3 linked regions of the Homo sapiens genome follow. The protein of the gene in region 3 purifies or fractionates together with the protein of the main gene of each other region. This does not show direct contact. Each region holds a gene or a part of one and is shown on either strand. Other genes may lie near its edges.

Region 1 (7,106 bases), on a different chromosome or scaffold from region 3:
TTAGGAGAACAAAAACAAAATCTATTTGTGTATGTGTATGTGCATAGATAAACCAATTACAAAACACAATCACAATTTTAAAATCAGGAATATGGCTGTTGGCCAGGTGCAGTGGCTCAGGTGTAATCCCAGCACTTTGGGAGGCTGAGGCTGGTGGATCGCTTGAGTCCGGGAGTTCGGGACCAGCCTGGGCAACATGGCGAAACTCTATCTCTACCAAAAATACAAAAATTAGCCAGCCTTATAACCCGGTCTCAAAATAAATAAATAAATAGATAGATAGCTACAAACTTAAAAATAAAAAAAGAAAAGGAATATGGTTGTTCACACGACTATTAACTTTTCTGTTTAAAAATTTTTATAATAAAAAGTTAAAAAGTATATTGAGGACCTACACATTGAAGTAAGCAGCCATGATGTATGTAAGCTAACTTCAAATGGGTCAGAAAAAAAACATTGTGTGTCTGTGAACAGAGGACGGTAGGTGTACTGGTGTCCTTTCAATTTTTCTGTAAGTTTAAGATCATTTCCAGATAAAAAGTTAAGCTGGACTCAATGGCTCATACCTGTTGCCCCAGCTATTTGAGGGGCTAAAGTGAGGGGATTCCTTGAGCCCAGGGGTTCAAGGGTACAATGAGCTATGATCAGGCCACTGCACTCCAGCCTGGGTGACAGAGCGAGACCTTGTCTCTATGTTTGTTTTTTTTTTAATGAAAAAAAAAATCCTGGCACACCTAAGACTTTAATATTTAGAAAACAATCTAAACAAAAAAAAATGAGAAAAAAGAAAGCAAATTAAATCAATTTTACAGGTTTGTCTTTTTCATGGAAGCAAAACTTAACCAGTTAAATTGGTTTTTAAGACATGGGAGAGTCTGGACGTGGTGGCTTATACCTGTAATCTCAGCACTTTGGAAGGCTGAGGTGGGAGGACTGCTTGAGGCCAGGAGTTCAACATCAGCCTGGCCAACATGGCAAAACCTTGTCTCTACCAAAAATACAAAAATTAGCAGGGCATGGTGGCAGGCGCCGGTAATCCCAGCTACTCAGGAGGCTGGGGCAGGAGAATCACTGTGGGCCACGATCTTGGTCCCAGGCACCATGAACCCGGGAGGTGGAGTGGCGGTTGCAGTGAGCTGATACCACGCCACTGCACTCCAGCCTGGGCAATGGAGTCAGACTTCATCTCAAAGAAAAAAAGACATGGGAGAAAAAAACAAAACTAAAATTAACAGCAGACCATTCCAATCTGCGAACAAAAGTAAGACCTTGTCTCTACAAAAATATCAAAAAATTAGCCAGGTGTGGTGGTGCATGCCTGTAGTCCCAGCCGCTTGGGAGGCTGCAGTGGGGAGGATCACTTGAACCCAGACTGAGGCTGCAGTGAGCCATGGTTGCACCACTGCACTCCAGCCTGGGTGACAGAAAGTCTCAAAAAAAAAAAAAAAAAGTGAACCATTCTGAAATCGCAAGTTTACTCGTGTATTACTTTTCCATTTCAGAGCTTGAGGAAAAAAGCCATAAATGATTTTGCTTCCTACCCTCCAACTAGGTCTGGCCTCCAGGCCTCTTTGCTTGCTTTGTCCTCTGCCTGGAGTGTAATTACAATCATCAGGCAGCCCTCCCTCATGCCACTTCCCTTTCCAGGGAGGCAATTTGTGTCATGAAACACACTTGAGGTCAGGAGTTCGAGACTAGCCTGGCCAACATGGCGAAACCCTGTCTCTACTAAAAATACAAAAATTAGCTGGGCATGGTGGTGCACACCTGTAGTCCCAGCTACCTGGGAGGCAGAGGCAGGAGAATCACTTGAGGCAGGAGAACCACCTCCGGGAGGCGGAGGTTGCAGGGAGCCAAGATCACGCCACTGCACTCCAGCCTGGGCATCAGAGCAAGACTCTATCTCAAACAAACCTCAAAATAACTATAAATAAATAAATAAATAAATAAATGATTATACAGGGCAACTATTTGCTTAATGTCTGTGTCCCCATAATCGGGAGCTCTGTGAGGGCAGAGACCTAGTGTCTATCCACAGCTCTATCACTTCCTCTGGGAGGCCTACCCTGACCTCTCTCAGCCTAAGTCGGACGCCTCCTCTGGGCTCCCATAGTCCTGTAGTTTCTCCCATTGTGGCCCTATCCCCTCTGCCTGCCTCCCGATCCCAGCTCCGATGATCTGGATGTCAGTTTGATCATGGATCTGTTTACCACCTCTCTCTGTGAGCCTTGTGTGAGCAGGGCCCAGGGCTGTACAGGTCACCACTGTGTCCCCAGCATCACCCAGTAAGGTTCAGGCACACAGCTGGTGTTCAGTAAATGCACAGTAACATGGAATGGCTTCAGCGTCACCTTTCAGAGGCCCCTGGGCTGCCTCCCCAGTACCCCCCAGTTCAGCCCCACCTCCATGATCCCACCACCCACCCGAGGTGCAGGCCACGACCTTGTCCACACCATGAGCCTTCATGGCTGCCACAATGTTCCGGGCGCCCTCGGACATCACTGTCGTGGGACCTTAGAGGGGACAGAGAGTGGCTGTCACTGGTGGGCGGCGGCGGCGGCAGGGGTGGCAGGGGCGGGGCCGGGGGCGGGGGTGGCGCTGGGGGCCGAGGTGTAGGGGAGGGCCGTGGGCAGAGGGGGGGCTCAGTACTGAGGTCATTGCGGGTGCCCAGCAGCACGATGACAGCGTCCTGCCCAGCCACGGTCTTGTCCACATCGGCTGCCTGCAGAACATCTCCCACTACCACGTGGGCCGGCCGGGGCCCCTCTGATGGCAGCCTGGAGGAGTCCCGCACCAGCACTGTCACTTCGTAACCTGTGGGCAAAGAGGAGCAGAGAGCCTGGTCAGTGGGCTGGCACTCTTGGGCTCCAGGAGCTGGGTCCTAGAAGCCACCATGAACTCTCAAATCCATCCCCTCCTCTGTTCTGGGGAAGTGGTCTTCAAACATTTTTGGTTTTTTCTTTTTGTTTGTTTTGTTTTTGAGACAGGGTCTTGCTCACTTGCCCAGGCTGCTGTGCAATGGTGCAGTCACAGCTCACTGCAGCCTCAACCTCCGGGGTTCAACTGATCCTCCCATCTCAGCACCCCAAGTAGCTGGGACCACAGTGTGCACCACCACACCCAGCTAATTTTGCAATCTTTTGTAGAGAAGGGGTTTTGCCATGTTGCCCAGGCTGGTCTTGAACTCCTGGGCTCAGGTGATCTGCCTGCCTCAGCCTCCCCATGAGCCACTGCGCCGTGGCCTTCAAACATTTTTGCTGGCATACCTACAGTTGATGCTTAGTATTGGGCTGATTATTAAAATAGACCATACCTTGGCCAGGCATGGTGGCTCACGCCTGTAATCTCAACACTTTGGGAGGCTGAGGCGGGCAGATCACCTGAGGTCAGGAGTTTGAGACCAGCCTGGACAACATGATGAAACCCCATTGCCACTAAAAATACAAAATTAGCCAGGCATGGTGGCACATACCTGTAATCCCAAGTACTTGGGAAGCTGAGGCAAAAGAATCACTTGACCCGACAGGCGGAGGTTGCAGTGAGCAGAGATTGCACCAGTGCACTCCAGCCTGGATGACAAAGCGAGACTCTATCTCAAAAAAAAAAAAAAAAAAAAAAAAAAAAAAAAAAAAGACCATACCTTCATGATAATTCATAAATAATCTGAACTGAAGCCTCCAAGCACCACACCCTGTAAATTCCTTACCTTCTATTTATTATTATTATTATTTTTTGAGACGGAATCTCACTCTGTAACCCAGGCTAGAGTGCAGTGGCACAATCTCGGCTCACTGCAACCTCCGCCTCCCGGGTTCAGGCACGTGCCACCACACCTGGCTATCATTATTATTTTTTTTGAGATAGAGTCTCCCTCTGTTGCCCAGGCTGGAGCACAGTGGCATGATCTCAGCTCACTGCAACCTCCGCCTCCCAAGTTCAAGCGATTCTTTTGCCTCAGCCTCCCGAGTAGCTGGGACTACAGGCGCATGCCACCACATCCAACTAATTTTTGTGTTTCTAGTAGAGATAGGGTTTTACCATGTTGGCCAGGCTGGTCTTGAACTCCTAACCTCAGGTGATCCACCCACCTTGGCCTCCCAAAGTGCTAGGATTACAGGCGTAAGCCACTGTACCCAGCCAGCAACTTCCCTACCCTCTAACAACTAAAGGGTTAATGCAGGCATTGCACTGGTCTCTGTCTCCCATCCATGGTCCTGGAAGAAACTGAGGTTCTGAGGGGGACATGGGTTGCCTACAGACTGACCAGTGCTGGGATTGGTCCCAGCCCCTGCTGCCCAGCCTTACTGCTGGGAAGCCCAGCCCTCCTTTAGTGGTCATTAAAGATTTTTAATATTGTCTTAGTATGTTCCTTCCCAAAATAATTTTGGATAATTTTGTTTCTCTTCAACACACACACACATACACACACATTTTAAAGTTCACAACTAACATATTTCTTCCTTTGTTTTAAACATTGGCAAAGGATGTTAACATTTGGGTATACTGTAATAGCAACATATATATATATATATATATATATATATTTAGAGACAGGGTCTTGCTCTGTTGCCCAGGCTGGAGTGCAGGGGCGCCAATCATAGCTCACTGTAACCTCAAATTCCTGGGCTGATGCCTATTATAATCCCAGTGCTTTGGGAGGCCAAGACAGGAAGATTGTTTGAGGCCAGGAGTTTGAGACCAGACTGGGCAACATAGTGAAACCCCGTCTCTGCAAAAAAAATAAAAAAAATCTAGCCAGGTGTGCTGGCGCAACCTGTAGTCTCAGCTACTCAGGTGGCTGAGGCTGTAGTGAGCTATGATTGTACCACTGCACTCCAGCCTGGGCTACAGAACAAGACTCTGTCTCAAAAATAAATAAATAAATTAAATTAAATTAAATTAAATTAAATTAACAAAAAGTTTAGGCTACTACCTGGCACAGAAATAAGAGTTACCTGGTGCTGGGCGCGATGGCTCACGCCTGTAATCCCAGCACTTTGGGAGGCCAAGGCAGGTGGATCACCTGAAGTTGGAAGTCCAAGACCAGCCTGACCAACACAGGGAAACCCCGCCTCTACTAAAAATACAAAATTAGCCAGGCATGGTGGTGCATGCCTGTAATCCCAGCTACTTGGGAGGCTGAGGCAGAAGAATCGCTTGAACCCAGGAGGTAGAGATTGCAGTCAGCTGAGATTGTGCCATTGCACGCCAGCCTGGGCAACAAGAGCGAAACTCCGTCTCAAACAAAACAAAACAAAACAAAACAAACAACAACAACAACAATAAACATAAAAAACCAAAAAACCCAAAAAGACACAATAAAAAAATTAAAAAAAGAGATGGGGTTTTGCATGTTGGCCAGGCTGGTCTCGAACTCCTGGACTCAAGTAATCTGCCTGGCATGGCCTCCCAAAGTGCTGGGATTACAGGCATGAGCTACCGAGCGTGGCCTATTACACCTTGTAACCATTTTGCAACTTTATCTCCTGGCCTGATCCAGGCCTACGTCTCCTTCCTGGTCCCTTTCCTGGGTCCTCCCTGGGCTCCTGGACCCAGTCCTGCCCTCTCCAATCCATATTCCACACAGCAGCCAGACAGAGTTCTCCACAGTAATATTTAAGTGCCTCTCTGCTCAGTTGCCTCCCGCAAGCCTGAAATGCCCTGTGATAAAACCCATGCTCCTCATGCCAGCCTTCCAGGCCCCTCGGGATCTGGCTTCTCCTCTCCAGGCTCTGCTGAAGCCTCTGCCCTCTTCACCCACAGCACATTTTTTTTTTTTTTTTTCTGAGACGGAGTCTCGCTCTGTTGCCCAGTCTGGAGTGCAGTGGTGCAGTCTCGGCTCACTGCAACCTCCGTCTCATGGGTTCAAGCGATTCTCCTGCCTCAGCCTCCTGAGTAGCTGTGATTACAGGCGCCTGCCACCATGCCTGGCTAATTTTTTTGTATTTTTAGTAGAGATGGGGTTTCACGATGTTAGCCAGGCTGGTCTCGAACTCCTGACTGTGTGATCCACCTGCCTCAGCCCCCCAAAGTGTTGGGATTACAGGCATGAGCCACTGCACCCGGCCCCAACTGCTCTTCTTTCAGTTCCTCAAATGCATGGTGCTGCTTCCTGCCTCCTGGACTTTGCACGTGCTGTGCCCTCTGCCTGGAACACCCTTTACCCTCTTTACCCGGTCCCCCCAGTAACTTGTACTTCCTCTGTCACAGCCCTCTTTATGCTGACCTGCAGCAAACCAAGCACCCTGTGGGTCCAGGGACTGTGTCATGTTTTCTGCCATCTCCCTGAACCTTTGTAAACACAAAAGCACAGGCATTACTGCCCCAGGGACCTTGATCCAAACTCCAGCTCTGCCACTTACCAGCTGAGGAACCTCATGCAACCTCTTCCGTGATTGGACCTCAGCTTCCTCATCTCTGAAGTGAGGATCACAGCACCAGCCTCCCCGTGCTATGTGACCACCTTTCATAGGGGAATGACACAAGATCTGTGCTGCCCTCACACATGGGGGAGCAGCAGGGGCTTGCATGGGCCAATATGGGCATTCTTTTTTTTTTTTTTTTTGAGATGAAGTCTCACTCTCTTGCCCAGGCTGGAGTGCAGTGGCGCAATCTCAGCTCACTGCAACCTCCGCCTCCCAGGTTCAAGCGATTCTCCCACCTCAGCCTCCAGAGTAGCTGGGATTATAGGTGTGCACCACAACACCCGGCGAATTTTTTGTATTTTTAGTAGAGATGGGGTTTCACGGTGTTAGCCAGGGTGGTCTCGATCTCCTGACCTTGTGATCCGCCCACCTTGGCCTCCCAAAGTGCTGGGATTACAGGCGTGAGCCATGGTGCCTGGCCTCTTTTTAAGCTTTTTGAAAATCTCAGCCATTGGCCGGGCGTGGTGGCTCACGCCTGTAATCCCAGCACTTTGGGAGGCTGAGGCGGGCGGATCATGAGGTCAGGAGATGGAGACCATCCTGGTTAACATGGTGAAACCCCATCTTTACTAAAAATACAAAAAAAATTAGCTGGGCATGGTGGCAGGCGCCTGTAGTCCCAGCTACTTGGGAGGCTGAAGCAGGAGAATGGCTGAACTCGGGAGGCGGAGCTTGCAGTGA
Region 2 (7,106 bases), on a different chromosome or scaffold from region 3:
TGTAAACACCACAGGTTCTGTGGTGCTATCTGTAAGGGACTGTAGGATTTAATCATTTCTCCACTAATATTTCCGGAACATTAGCTTGGGGGGACAGTATAGTGCCAAGGTTAAGGGCAAGAGCTTTCAAGTCAAGTTCCCCAAGTGCACTCTTGGTTTGCCTGGACAGTAAGACTTAAGGAAAATAACTCAGCCTCTTGGTGCCTCATTTTTTTCAGCTGTAAAATGGGGATAATAATAGTATCTAGGCTATCAGGATATTGTGAAGACTGAATAAGAGAATTCCAGTGAGGCCAGTGAGCACAGAACCTGGCACCAGATTCATGGTCAGGAAATGTCAGCTGCTATTACAGTCACTTCTTCCAACCCCATATACAAGCTCTGTCCCCACTTAGGGGCTCAGTGTCTGGGCAGGGGTTGGATAAAGGGACAATTCCAACATGATGTGATGTGAGGGATGAGGGAGGTGGTCCAGGTGCCAGGTGAGTGGGGCAAAGGCGCTCTGTATGATTCGCCATCTGAGCCAAGACTGGAAGAGGAGGAGACCAGGGAAGCACATCTGGAAACTGGAGGAGCCCCGCATGAGTAAAGCCATCAGAATGTTTGGTCAGAAAGTGGTTCCCACATTGGCCACTGGCCTCTTCTTGACCATCTAGCAAATTCCACATGCTGGGTAGCTTTTCCTCATCATTTGTTGTTTTTTCAAAGGAAGACAGTATAAAGCAGAAATGGGGAACTTGTTTCCGGTTGAGGGTCATGCACCAGGGAAGCCCGAGAAGGGGTCCTCAATGGCCATACCCAGTACAGAGGTGTTATGGAAGATGGGGCAGATTCCCATGAGAATGAGTCCTCCTACCAGGCAACACACACTGAAACCCTGCCGTGTGCCAAGCCTGTTCTAGATGCTGGGGGACAACGTCGACCTTGACAAAGTCCAGTTATCAAGCGTCTGCTGTATGACAAATTAGATCATTTTAGATAGAGCTCAATGAATGCTTGGAAGAAATTAAAAGAGGGTGATTCAATAAGATAATTTAAAATTATTGAATAACCATGATTCACACAGTTCTTTGGTTGATGGTTATTTGCATTTGGACAAAGCCCCTTTCCAGGTAGGAGAATCCTGTGGGCCCCCATGGCCACGTTTACTCATCATGTCCCTCATGCCCAGGTGAGCTGCCAGATGGATAGCTGAAGAGAAGAGTGAGGTGCGGCCTCCCCTGGCCACCAGGTGCCACCTTCACCCCCCTCACCCTCACGCTTCCCTTCTACTCTTCAGCTATGTAACATTCTATACGGTGAGACTTTTAAAATGGAGTTTACAAACTTGCTGCCTGCAATCTGTATCTGGCTCTCAGTCCTCTTCTATTTGGCCCACATTGAATTTAACAACAACAAAAAAAATAAATCTGAATTAGCTCCAACATAGAAATGGAGCCAGAAGATTTAATACAACAATTTGGCTTTCCAGCTTCTCTTTAAAAGTCAGAAGACTTGATGGCACTTACCCTGCAGTCTCACAGGTGACAACTGGCTGGGCAGAGAGGCAGCTGTCCTTCAGGTAGGCTAAACATACCTTCCCCAGCACCCCCTGGAGCCCAGTTCACCCAGGCCAGCAGACTGGCCCCTATGCACTTCTGATAACCGCAGCCCACCTCTAACGCACTTTATTATTTAAAAACATGAGGCAGATGCTCCCCTGGCCAAATTGTGGGGTTCCATTTCTCAGGGCAGGTGCTATGGGGCCCTGCCCAGGGACACGGGCATCCACATACTTTCCTTCCCTGCAGCCAGAGGCTGAGGCCCCATGCCCAGCCCGGGCCAGGAGCTGCTGCTCCGCCATGAAAGTGCTGGATGAACATGGCTCTGGGCTGCTGCTCTCCCTGCATCTGCTTTAAATTATGAATTTAATTTGTATACAATGCCCTGGAGCTATTGGAAATATAGTGTATGGTTTTATAAATCTACTAAATTAGAAATGTATACTTGTTCTGAATCACCTAAACTAGCTGCCAGCCGCACACATGGAATGCAACTTCTAGCTGCAAAGGTGAATCCACGCGCGTTTTCCACAGAAGAAGAGACAAATGCGTCCTCCCCAAAGGCAGCAGCTTAGACTCTTTGGAAAGAAGGCAGCGAATAAAGCTCTTCTCAGCTATTGAAATTTCACCTAAATGCCTGTCCCCTTACACCCAACTCAAGATTTGCACTGATCACCTGCAACACAGAACACCTACGATTTCTCAATTTGTTCTATGGTGGTTGGTACAAATCCTGGGGCACACGCTGCTGGTGTCCTGCCACATCCCCTCAGACCAGCCCTTGCCACAGCACCTGCTACTCTCAGCCTCAGAGCATCCTCCCAGCCTCAAGGAGCTGGACGTAAGGCCAATGACAGATGGGGGTCTAGAACAAGGACCCTGGCTTCTTTGGCCTTTGAGTGGAACAGCTCTGTGTCACGTTTCCTGGTGAGGTCTCCTGTGGGACTGAGCCTTGGTGACTCATCCAGTCATCTGCCCATAAAACACCTGCTTTGGTTCCTCCCCTTTCGTGTCTCACTTCCAGGGTCCTCTCTGAACTTCCTGAGATCACTTCCCAAATAAATTCCCTGCACATGAGCCCAGGAGCAGGGTCTGCTTCTGGGAGAACTCAAACTCTGACAATGCCTGTTTGCGATTCTCACTCTGCCCCTCTCCAGCTGAGAAACTAGCATATGATCTCTCTAAGATTCAATCACCTCTTCAGCAATATGAGCACTGTAACAATACCTAGTTGAGCAAGCTATTGTAAGGACAACATGATGTAAGAAATGCTTTCAGTGGAAGAAGAGCTCGCAGTAAATATCAAATATGTTATATTGTTCCTTCACCTAGTCAACATTTACACAGGTCTAAGGTGTCATGACTGTGGGGAGTTCAAGGACAAATGAGGTCTCTGTCCTGAGGGAGCTTTCACTTGGAAAAGGCAGTAGCCAGCCTCATAAACAGGAGGACCTACATGTCATGGCCAGATTCCAGCAGTGAAGTGGGCCCATGGCAGAGGTGGGGCCCCCACTGCCTCAGGGCCTCCCTCTAAGGGTGACCTTCACACCTGGCCCCACACCACCCCCAGCCTGCACACCTTGACGTGCAGTGAAAGGTGAGCCCCCCACCTGCTTGCCAGCCCACCACAGGTCCTGTCTGCCTTGCCCCTTCAATAACACCATCTGTTCCAACACTAACACTTTGCATTCCTTTCCCCACCAGTGTGCCAACCGATAAAGTCCCCAAGTAAGCTCCCGGGAGGGGGTGGAGGCTCCCCTGCTAAAATATGAGCTGCCACACACAGCTTTATTGATTCAGTAAAATAAATCTCTGCAGGAGCTAATATTGACTTTGGCTATGAAAATGGAAGTGAACAACCAACTGCATATTGATTGGGATAGGAACAGGGGCTGGCTTCTGGGTGGAAAAACCCCACAATTCCAGCTAAGAAGTGGCAGCTTGGGGTGTCAGGAGACCCAGTTCTGGCTGTCAGTGACCCGCTGGGCATTCCTGAACAAGGGACACAGCTCCTCTCTGGGCCTGGATCCCTCACGAGTAAAGGGAGAGGGGACAGGCCAACAGTCCCCACACACCAGCCTGTGGCCAGCACAAGAGCCAGCTCTTAAAAACCACAAATTTCCAGCACCATCCCCCAGAGACTCTGATCTGATAGTTGTAGGATGGGACCCAGTAGTCACAGTGCCATGCCTGGAGCACAGAGTGGGCACCAGTAAGTTCAGCCCCCCAGGCCAGATGGCTGGCTTCCCTGATGTCATGAATATAACCTCCAGGAAACCCAGGCAGGCCACCTGCCTCAGACAGAGAGGTTATGAAGTGCATTCCTGAATGCAAGTGAGGGTGATCCCTGGCTTGGAATAAAGGAAGCTGAAAGGAGAGACAGAGGGAATAAGAGACAGGAGGACTGAACCCAGGAAAAGGCCACAACACCACTGGCCCAAGACAATCAAGCAAAGGTGTGTCAGTGTCTAAGCGGAGGGGAGCATCAAGGAAATGGGCCCCCATGTAGCAGTGCAGGGGGAATGGGAAGAGAAGACGTGGGCTCTCAGCTGCCCGCTGGAGGCCTGGCAAGTCTGGCCTCACCTGCACTGATGTGGGTCAGGCCACAGGACAGCCTCAGCGGCGGTCTAGTGGGCAGAAAGGGGCCACGTCAATGGGGCTGCCCCTTCAGGGTTTCCCCAGCCCCCTCGGTGCCTCAGCTGGACCACGCTCCCTGACACCATGCTCCCCAGCATGGCTGGGAGGGCAAGCCCAGGATCTGTCTGCCAGTCATGCCTCAGGACCCTCACAGATCTCCTGGGGCCTATGGAGACCTGAGTGTCCAGTGGGACAGGGAGATGGCACACCTCAGCCTTTCTCCTGCTGCCCAGAGCACCCAGCATTCTGGGTGGCACGTGATGGACGTCAATACAGAGTGGCAGCTATTCCGGTCCTGTGGACTGGCAGCCCAGGCCATGCTGGATATCGTGGGACCACCAAGCAGGAGCAACTACCCTGTGCTGTGCACAAGTGGGTGGGAACAATGAGGGACATGGACACGGGAAGGAAGCCCCTGCTGCCATACCCCACTCAGTGCAGGGAAAGGGGCAGGCAGAGGAGAAAACGCTTCTGGTCCTTGTACTCCCTTCTGGTGGGGGTGAGGGGTGCCTCAAAGCCGCAGCCAGGGCTTTCGGGTAACAATGGGACCTCCTGACTCCAGAGAGAGTCCTGGGCTCTGGGTCTAAGTGAGAATCAGGTTCCCAGTTCATCCCCACTCTGCCTGCATGGGCCTGTCCCCAGCCTGGCTTCCTTTGGCTTTATGTCCCTGTAAAGTTCTCATTACCCCATCTCTGCCACTGTCTCTGGGCCTGTTAAGGTGATCCTAGCACCTGTATCTCTGCTCCCACAAGGTCTGGATGGTACCTTTAGGCCTGACCTCCTGTTGGCCTTGATCAAAACTTCAAACCCTGCCCACCCGGCCCTGGGATGGTCATCTGTCTCTGCTTGTGAGGGCTGCTCCACTAATACCTGCTCCCCTTTCCTGCCTCGGCTGAACTTCCGTCTAGGCCTGCTTGGCCTGTTTATCATCTAGGACTCTATGCTCAGCTTATGCCTGGCCTTGGTTCCTTCCAGCCTGCCCTGGCCCCACCTGGGATTCCACCCAGGAAAGTAAGGCACCCCTGCACGTGACTCTGGGTTTGGGTGTGTGTGAATGCAGATCCCACGTGACTGCCAGCTTCTAGGGCCTGTTAGGCCAGAGGTTCCCATGACTGAGTCTCAGGGCTGGGAGGAATGTTTGCAGTCCTCTGCACCAGTGCTCCGCCTGGCATGGATGAGAAGGGAACTCAAAGGCTGGCAGTCAATCACACTTCCCCGAATTCAGGGGTATTTCCCTGCCCCACAAGCCCTCTCCCAGCAGAAGCCCCCACTGCACCAGCTGCCTGGGGGATGTGCCTGGGGGACGCGCCTGGAGGCCCTGCACTCTAATCCAATCTGCAGCTCTAGCTTGTTAATTTTATGCTTCATCAGTCGGCAGCTGCAGGAGCCTTTCACTTAGGCAGGGCGAGGCTCCACTGACATGGCCTTGCTCTCCTCCACCATGGCATCCTCCAGTTGACTTTTGTTGGATTTTTAAATTTGTATTTTTAATTATATAAGTAATGCATGATGACAATCCTACAGTAAAAAGGTTCAAACACTAAAAAAGTAAATAGATGACCCCTTTAACCATCCCTCTCCTCCAAGTAAGTGCTGGAATGGTTCAGCATATCCCTTTTAGTTGATTTTGCAGCATAAATCCAGCCTGCCCTATCTTCCTTCTAAAGAGAATGTCCTGGTTCCCAAGGAATTTCCTGCTTACAGGTCTTAGCAGACCTGCCCCTGTTTGGGGAAGGACCTGAATGACAAGAAGGAAGGTGTAGGAATTAGCTGCAGGCAGATCAAGAGATGAAGAGCGCTGTCCTTACCTTTCGGTCATCTTTGAAGGCATCAGCAGTAGCAGTAAAGTGCGGAATGACCTTCTTACAGTGTGGGCACCCTGTGTGAGAGGGGAAGAGAGCACACAGGACTGTGATGCATGTGCAGGGAGGCTGCAGGGCCAGGGACCCTTCCTGAAAGCTCCAGAGAGGGCTCTCCAGGAGCTCCCCACTGCCCGCCACACTGTCAGGGTCCTTTTGTCAACCTTGCCACTCTAACCACCTCCCACCCATGTCTGATCTATTGGTAGGGGGGACTGGTAGGAGTCCCTGTCACAAGCATCATATGCTCCTGCCCAGGCTGGGGGGCGATGGTCACTGTAGTCTAGTTCTGCTCCTTCCACAGAGGACGAGGAACAGCCTGATCTTGGGGGCAGAGGGAGCTTTGGGCTTAAAGAGGAAGGCACGGGATTCTCAGAGCCGCTACAATCTTCTCTTGCTCCAGGGACAATAGCAAATCTCTCCATTTCCTGACTGAGAGGAAGTGGCGTTGGGAAATGCAGGGTGGGGGGATTTTGGGGCAACTACTCTGCACCCACTGCTCATGATTTGCTGCTAACTTCTGCATTCCTAGCAACCTCCACCCAGCCCAGACTGTGAGCAGCCAAATCAGGCCCTGGTCCCCAGGTCTCCATCTACTCTTTGCTCTACAATAACCAGAACCTCAAAGCCAGGAACAGGAAGGCCATGGTCAGGGTAAGAGGGAGAGGAGCTACGGGAAGTCACCAGGCAGTCCTCAGGTCCCTTGATGCTCCCTGTCCCAGGGAGAAGGCTTGTCAGAGCAGCCTAAGGCCTTTGAGCTATACTGGGGCCCCTACCTCCAGCATCTGTCTCTTGTTCTGGGCATCACCCTGAGCCCCAACTCTGACCTCAGTGTCTCAGAAGCAGGGTAGGGACCTCTGTGGGGGCCACTTTCTCCTCCTGTCCTGGTGAGCCCAGGAGCTGCAGGCTGATCCAGCCCTTCCCTCAGCACTAACAGATCAGAACCCAAACCCCCCTCCTCTCTCAGCCCTTTCCCAGTCACTGGTGAACAGAACTGTCCAGGGCACAGAAGGGCTCTGAGGGGAGGGTTTCCCTGAGCAAGGGGAGGCTCCAGCCCACACCTCTACGT
Region 3 (7,716 bases):
ATTCAGTATATAATACATTTACAAAATACGTGGTAATCGACTATGTTCTTGGGTCTTGTGGTCAACAGTAGGCTATTAGTAATTAAGTTTTGAGCCAGGCATGGAGGCTCACACGTGTATTCCCAGCACTTTGGGAAACTGAGGTGGAAGAGTTGCTTGAGCCCAGGAGTTTGACACCAGCCTGGGCAACACAGGAAGACCCCATCTCTACAGAAAATTTAAAAAATAGCCAGGTGTGGTGGTGCACACCTGTAATGCCAGTAACTGGGAAGGCTGAGGTAGGAGGACTGCTTGAGCCCAGGAGGAGGCTGTAGTGAGCTGTGTTCCTGCCACTGCACTCCAGGCTTAGCAATAGAGTGAGACCCTGTCTCAAAAAAAAAAAAAAAAAAGGAAAAAAACTGTAGTTTTGGGGGTAGTCAAAAGTTATACATGGCTGGGTGCACACCTGTAATACTAGCGGCTTGGGAGGCTGCGGCAGGAGGATCGCTTGGGCCCAGGATTGCCAGGCTCTAGTGCACCATGACTGCCTGTGAAAAGCCACTCACTCCATTCTGGGCGACACAGCAAGACCCTGCCTCTAAAAGAAAAAAAAGTTATATGCAGACTTTTGACTGCATGGGGGTCAGTACCCCGAACTCCTGTGTTGCTCAAGGATCAACTGTATAGATATAGATATCCAAATGGTTCTGTTCCCTGGTGAAACCTGGACTAATCCAAGTATCTTACGAACAAAGTGGAGACTCAGAGAGGTTTAGTAATTTGCCCCAAATCACACAGCAGAACAGGGACTCAAAACCAGGTATGATCCAATGTATTATACAAATTGTCACACTTCTGAGTGAAAGGGTGTTATTAATAATTATCCCTGGATAACAGGCATAGACCAGAACAATCTAGGTCAAACAACAGCGCAGCACAGCTTGAACCCACTGCACTCAACTGCCTCTCTCGTCCCTCGCTCCCCTCCTCTCTCTGGCTCCTTCCTTCCACCTACAGAGATCCTCAGGCTCCACTCCCAAAACAATTGTTTCCTACCCCTGTTTCCATCTCAAGGTCCTCTCTCTCTCAGTTAAATTTCAATCTATAACATCAACATCAAAAAACCAAGGGTCTTTTCTCAGTCCTCATCTTGCAGTTCTGGCACTCTTGCTGTAACCTCAGTGGTGAACTCTCTCTTTCCTTAGATTCTTGTGCCAGTGGTCCCAAAGATCATCGGGTCAGTTGGAGAGTCCCTAGAAGGAAGATTCCAAGAACCCAGCATATAGTTCTACTCACAGCTGGGAAGGAAAAACACAGAGGGAGAATCTAGGGGAATCTATGTGCAGGTTTCCTATGCTCTCTCCCTCCCATGAGGAAGAGCACACTCTTCCCCCAGCAACAAAACTTGACAGTATGTGCCATTCTTCTGGCAGAACATTCCTCTGCTAGAGATGCCCATTAGACTCAGCACCCAAGGTTTTCACTGGGGGCTGGTCACATGGGGCACCCTCTGCCTAGCATATACAGTGTTCAATACTAACCACACCATCTGTATATACGGCCTAGGCAAGTGAGTCCACCGTTATTGGGTAGGGAAGGGTGAGAAATCCAGACACTAGACAAGTCCCACCCTTGCAAGTAGGCTTTTCTAAGGAGAGCAGGCCTGCCATGTTAATTCTTTTCTGCACGGATGCCTGGACTCTGAACCATCTGGTTCCCTCTGCTACCGGCAAAAAGGCATCCCTTAACATCCTCACATCCCAGCCATGTCTCCCTCCCTCGGTGTCCTCACTGACTCATGGTTCTAAATGGCCCCTTCACAAATGATGCCCAAACTGGCATCACTGACTAAGGGCCAGGTTTCTGATACCCCCATGCAATCCTAGTCCATATAAGGCCAATTAACTCAGGAATTAGCGAGACCAGGCCAGAGGGTTTTGAAAAACATCAGGCCTCTTCCTGCTCTACCACTAACAGGTGGCAGGCCTCAGTTTCCTTATGTGTAAAAGCAGGAGATGGGTTCCTGCCAGCTCTGAAATACTATGGTACTATGACCTCCCCCCAATGCCGTTCCCCCGCTCCACATCTAATATCAGCCCCCTGTTGGTCCTTGTCGTGCGGCTCCAGTCCCAACCAACCCAGGTGGGCAGGTGGTTGTGAGTTTTCTGGACGCCTCTAGACTATTGACGTGTGTGGGTGTGTGTGGGCGGGGGGGTCTCTATTGACGTGTGGCGGGGGGGTTGTGGGGGTCTCTAACCTCCAGTCCACCCTCTGCGCTCACTTCCAGCTTTGGCTGAGCCCCAGGGGTACATGACCTAAAAGTGGGTTTGAGGAGTCCGATGCAGAGGCCTGGGATACAGGGGCAGGAAAAGGAAGTGCAGGCAAAGACTGGCTTATCCCAGGACCTGTCTCAATTCCCACCTAACCCAGGGAGCAGGCTCTGCTTCCCTCCCTCCGTCCCCCGCCACTCCCCACTATGCGTGGGCACAGTAAACGCCTCGGCTGATGCTAACATGAAAACCAAAAAGTTCTGAGGTCTGTACGCAGATCATCAACGAAAAGGCGGCTAGAGGGGAAATCTCCCGGGGACCGAGGGAGAAGTTCAGGGTGGGGTGTGCGGGCAAAGCGGAGCGCTCCGACTGTTGAGGACTCGTCCTCACCCCTCGGCCATCCTTCGGGGCCTAGAGAGAGGAGGCCCCCCGCCGGCCCAGGGCGCCCGCCGCGGGCCGCGCGTCCCCCAGAGCTTCCTGGGCCGCCGGCGCCTCCTGGGTCCCCGCTCGGCTCGCCGCAGATCGGACGCCACCCCGGGTCCCTCGGCCCGCGACACCCCCGCCTACCTCCTCCCCGCCATAGCGGGCCAGCTCCTCCTCGGTGAAAAGCCGCACTGGGGGCCCCCGCTCGGCAGGGCGCGGTGTCTGCCCGGCCCGGGCTGTGGGCAGCCCCGGGGCCAGCGCCAGGACCAGGGCCAGCGCTGCCAGCGGCCGCAGCCGCCGCCGCGGCGCGGGGCCCACCATGGTGAGCGCGCAGCGCAAGGCAAGGCCGGGCCAGGGCGGCGGGGCCCTAGCACGCCCGCCCAGCGTCCCGGAGTCCCGCCCCGCGCCCAGAGCCTCCCCGAGGGCGGGGACCCGAGAACTCCCGCCCTTCGCGCGCCTCCTGCGCCCCGGGGTGGGGCTGGCCGGGCTACTCGGGCCACGCAGCTGGAACCTGGAAATTAGGATTGGAATCCTGAACTCCTAAATCCAAACTACAGACTGGAAGTTACCAAAAAATGTCACAGTGGTTCCTTGATCAGGTAGAAAGATGACAGAGCCCAACATACCAGAACCTAGAAAGGTATATTTCTAAAATAAGACCCCAACTGTCTTAATTCGCTTTTATTTTTGGCTGATTTTTTTTCTTCCTGGTTGTGTTTAAGTTTCTGGTTCCCAAGGAGATTTTTGCAAAGGGTAGGGTGCTGTTACCGATACGCCCTGAAATAATAATAGCTAACATTTGTGCCAAACTTTGCTCATTACTTTATGCAACAAATATTTTTGAGTACCTCCATGTACCAGGTCACTGGGGACTCACCACTGAACAAGACAGATCCACGCCCACGTGAAGCTTACATTGTGTGGGCAGATAGACAATAAGATGCTAAGTAGTATGTTAGATGGTGGTAAATACTAGGGAGAAAAAGTAGGGCAAAGAGATAGGGAGCACTGGGATGGACATTTTATTTTATTTTATTGTTATGTATTTATTTATTTTTGAGACGGAGTCTGTCGCCTACGCTGGAGTGCAGTGGCGCCATCTCGGCCCACTGCAACCTCCACCTTCCGGGTTCAAGTGATTCTCCTGCCTCAGCCACCAGAGTAGTTGGGATTACAGGCACCCACCACCACGCCTGGCTAATTTTTTTTTTTTTTAATTTTTAGTCGAGATGAGGTTTCACTATATGCTGGCCAGGCTGGTCTCGAACTCCTGGCCTCAAGTGAACCATCCACCTCATCCACCCAAAGTGCTGGGATTACAGGTGTGAGGAACGGTGCCCGGTTATGGGGATGGTCATTTTAAATAGGCAGGTTAGGGAAGGCCTCACTGAGAACAGGGTATTTGCATAAAAATCTACAGGAGGCGAAGGAGGCGGTCTAGAGGGAAGAGCACTTTGGTCAAAGGATCAGGTGCATAAATGCGGAGGAATGAGGATGCCCGGCTTGCTGGAGGATCAAGGGAAGGTAAGAGGGGTAGGTGAAGTCAGGAAGGAAGCGGGTAAGGGAGTGGGGGTGGATCTTGGGGGCTTCACAGGTTATTTTCAAGACTGGCTTTTACTTTCAAGACTGGAATAGAGGAATTAACAGAAAAAGGGTCTCATTCCAGACCCAAGAGCAGGTTCTTAGACGTCCACGGCAAAGAATCAGGGCAAGTCGCAGAGCATAGTAGTTAAAATAGTTCATTAGAAACTACTCCATTTCTAATAATAGTACTACTGTGTTTCTGAGTAGTATCCTTGCTTTGAAGTAGTACTAAGCAAGTATTGTTTATATAGGAGCACCTCTGCCTTCAATGTAATGCTTGCTTTTATAGGGCTAAAACTAGCGTACTTCATTACAAAAGCCTATGATCAGCTTGTTACAGACTATTAGTATTGTTATTCTCTTGTGTAACTATTGACTTCAGGGAGAATTTATGGGTGTACTGTTATCTTTAAAGTGAAACTCATTTTTAAACTAAGAATGCCTTTTTCCATTATCTCATTTCCTCAACCATAAACATCTTGTGAAGAGTGCCTATCTTCCTGGGAAAGTCGCCCAGCAGGTTTGGCTTTATCTGACCTTTATTCAAGATGGAATCACTCTGGTTAGGACACTTCTGACATAATTCCCTCCTCCTTTTTACAAGGAGACCTTTAATCCTAAGGGGTGCAGGGGGACAGAGATCCATCTTCAGTAACTTCAAGCTGAACAGAAGCGATGATATTCCTGCCTAACCATTAGGATCCCTTTGCCCAAAGTAGAGAGCTAGCCAGTCAGAAAGCATCTGTATAGTGAGGACCAATCATACATAATTCTAAGTCCCAGAAAAAGGTGAAATCTAGAAAATTAACGTGTTAAATTTAAAGAAGCATTGAATAAGCTTAACTCTTATTCCTACATAAAAAGTACAATGCAGTATATTCCACAGCACAAAACAGAATGAATAGAATTATCCCAAGCATGCTAAACAAAAAAAGTTTCCCAAGGACTAGGCAGTTGTTAGAACCAAGCTGATATGGGGTCAACTGACAGCGTGTCAATGGCAGAGATGTGGGTGTCTAAGTCTTTTGTGGCCTGAGTAACATTATGTGAATAGTCTGGAATGTATGCATAACATTCTGTTTTGATTATAGCATAAGTTCCCCCTTTGAGCTGCTGTTAACATGTCCAGAGCCATAGTTTCATAAGGCTATCTGTCTAATTTGAGATGTTTCTTCAGTCAAGAGGGTAAGGGCATGGCGTGTATTATTGAAAACTGCAGCTGTGTTTAGCTATGGCTTTGGCTTGAAGCTCAATGTCAATTGTGGCTGCCTGTGGGGAGAAGACAGTGTCAGGCCTCTGAGCTGAAGCTCAGCCATTGTAACCCTTGTGACCTGCACCTATAAGTCCAGATGGCCTGCAGGAGCCAAGAAGTCTGGAGCAGCCAAAAAAACACAAAAGAAGTGCAACAAAAGAAGCTCCTGCCTTGACTGATTGACCAGCCTTACGACGTTCCACCATTATGAATTGTTCCTGTCCTGCCCCAACTGATCAATCGACCTTGTGACATTCTTCTTCTGGACAATGAATCTTATGATCTCCCCACCATGGACCCTGTGACCCCCTCCTCTGCTGACAATAGATAACCACCTCTAACTGTAACATTCCACTGCCTACCTCAGTCCTATAAAGCTGCCCCTCTCCTATCTACCTTCGCTGACTCTCTTTTCGTACTCAGCCCACTTGCACCCAAGTGAATAAACAGCCCTGTTGCTCACACAAAGCCTGTTTAGGTGGTCTTCTATACGGACACATGTGACAGATAGCCAATGGGTAAAACAACCAAGAAGACTGCTTTTGTCACTTATGACGAGCTTTTACAGTTTCCCAGTTAGATGGGAGAGATTATAATTTAGTGAGGATACATCCTGGGAGATGAAGATGACCCTATGTACATCTTCCAGTCCAATTATAAGGCACATATGGCCAGCCATGTGACCCACATGCCCATAATCAACCCCAAGGAGAAGTACAAGCACCTAGCCATAAAGACTCATTTTGCCATCCCATCCACGTTTGGCTAGTTACAAGAAGGGTGCAATTATAGTGTTGGGGTAGTAACCATTCCATGTTACAGGTTTCAGTGTAGTAATCACTGCTATTGTCTTTCAAAGCATAGGGGCACTCTGCCTAATACCTGAACTTAGACAGCTGTCATCCATTCATCGTGTACAGTATAACCTTACGTCAGAGTGGAGTTTAATTTTCTGATCAAACAAAAAAGAGGCTTCTTTGTTTCACGGTGGGAAGGGAAAGGGCTGGGCCCTGTGTTTCTGTAGTAGAAGGGAAAAAGGGTGGTCCATTTACCCCAATCATAATAATTTCCCCATATGCTCATAGTGGCTGGCAGGATGTGCCAGGGCAGCCTGAGGTGGAGGAGGCATTAGTTCCGTGCATACTCAGCAATTAGTGTTGTTGTGTAGGGAGGCTAAAGTCTGTGCCCATTTGGCAAAGAGATTGCTTCTTAGCTGGTTCCAATACATGCGCAGAATTAAGATGTTAATCCAAATCTTTAAGTTATTCATCCTTCTTGTTTCTTCTGAGCAGGCGCCAGAGATCAGTGGTTGGTACACAGGGATAAGTGAGATCAGTCTCAGCCTGTGGGACTTCATAAGAAATGGGTTTAATTCGAGATAAATGAACCCAGCTGCTTATTCCTTGAAGTTTAATTGCAGTTTGGGTACTAAGGAGTACTTGGTAGAGTACTTTGTACAAGTACTTTGGGGAAGGTTGATCTAACGGAGACCCTTCCTTCCAAGTTTTTAATAGAACCCAGTTTCCTGGCTGGATTGTAGCATTTTCTTCCTTAGTGGAGGGAGGAAGTCTCTGATTTCCATATTCAAGAAGAGCTTTTTGCACCCGACCTAAGTTAATAACGTAGTTCTGTAATTTGAAAGTATCTATATCTACTAGGAAATCTGCAGTTAAGAAAGGACTTCCATACATTATTTCGAAAGAGCTGAGCTGCAAGTTTCCCTTAGGGGCAGCCAAAACTAGCAACAAGGCCACAGGCAATAGAGACGAATAGGTTTCTGATGTTTCCTGGCATAACTTGGCAAGAGTCCTCTTTGAAGTTTGGCCCTTTCTACTTTTCCTGCAAACTGTGGCCTCCATGCTGAATAAAGATGATACTGAATTCCTAGAGCCGGTGATATATTTTGGGTTCTTGTTGCTGTGAAAAATGAGCCATTCTGTAAGCTTTTAGGCAGCCCAAACTTAGGGATTATTTCCTTTAATAAAAATTTAGAAATGTCAGTTGCCTTTTCAGACCAGGTAGGAAAAGCTTCAATCCAACAAGTAAAGGTATCGATGAATACTAATAAATATTTGAATCCTTCCCATGGGGGTATTTGAGTGTAGTCTATTTGCCAATCTTCACCTGGGTGTGTTCCCCTGTGCTGAACAGGCTTTACTAAAGGAGGAGGTAAAGGTACTTAGGGATTATTTCCTTTCATAAAAATTT

What was found.
Region 1: the proteins of NENF (region 3) and BLVRB purify together in Homo sapiens (affinity purification with mass spectrometry; 3 studies listed by BioGRID and IntAct, with this or other methods). This does not show direct contact.
Region 2: the proteins of NENF (region 3) and PDIA5 purify together in Homo sapiens (affinity purification with mass spectrometry; 3 studies listed by BioGRID and IntAct, with this or other methods). This does not show direct contact.

Annotation. Positions count from the first base shown.
Region 1 is NC_000019.10:40,455,732-40,462,837, forward strand, and holds part of BLVRB (flavin reductase (NADPH)), read right to left. Parts: intron 2,815-7,106; coding exon 2,650-2,814; intron 2,514-2,649; coding exon 2,424-2,513; intron 1-2,423. UniProt on the Homo sapiens protein: Enzyme that can both act as a NAD(P)H-dependent reductase and a S-nitroso-CoA-dependent nitrosyltransferase. Promotes fetal heme degradation during development.
Region 2 is NC_000003.12:123,153,922-123,161,027, reverse strand, and holds part of PDIA5 (protein disulfide-isomerase A5 precursor), read right to left. Parts: intron 6,058-7,106; coding exon 5,987-6,057; intron 1-5,986.
Region 3 is NC_000001.11:212,428,221-212,435,936, reverse strand, and holds the start of NENF (neudesin precursor), read right to left. Parts: upstream 3,018-7,716; 5' UTR 2,994-3,017; coding exon 2,817-2,993; intron 1-2,816. UniProt on the Homo sapiens protein: Acts as a neurotrophic factor in postnatal mature neurons enhancing neuronal survival. Promotes cell proliferation and neurogenesis in undifferentiated neural progenitor cells at the embryonic stage and inhibits differentiation of astrocytes.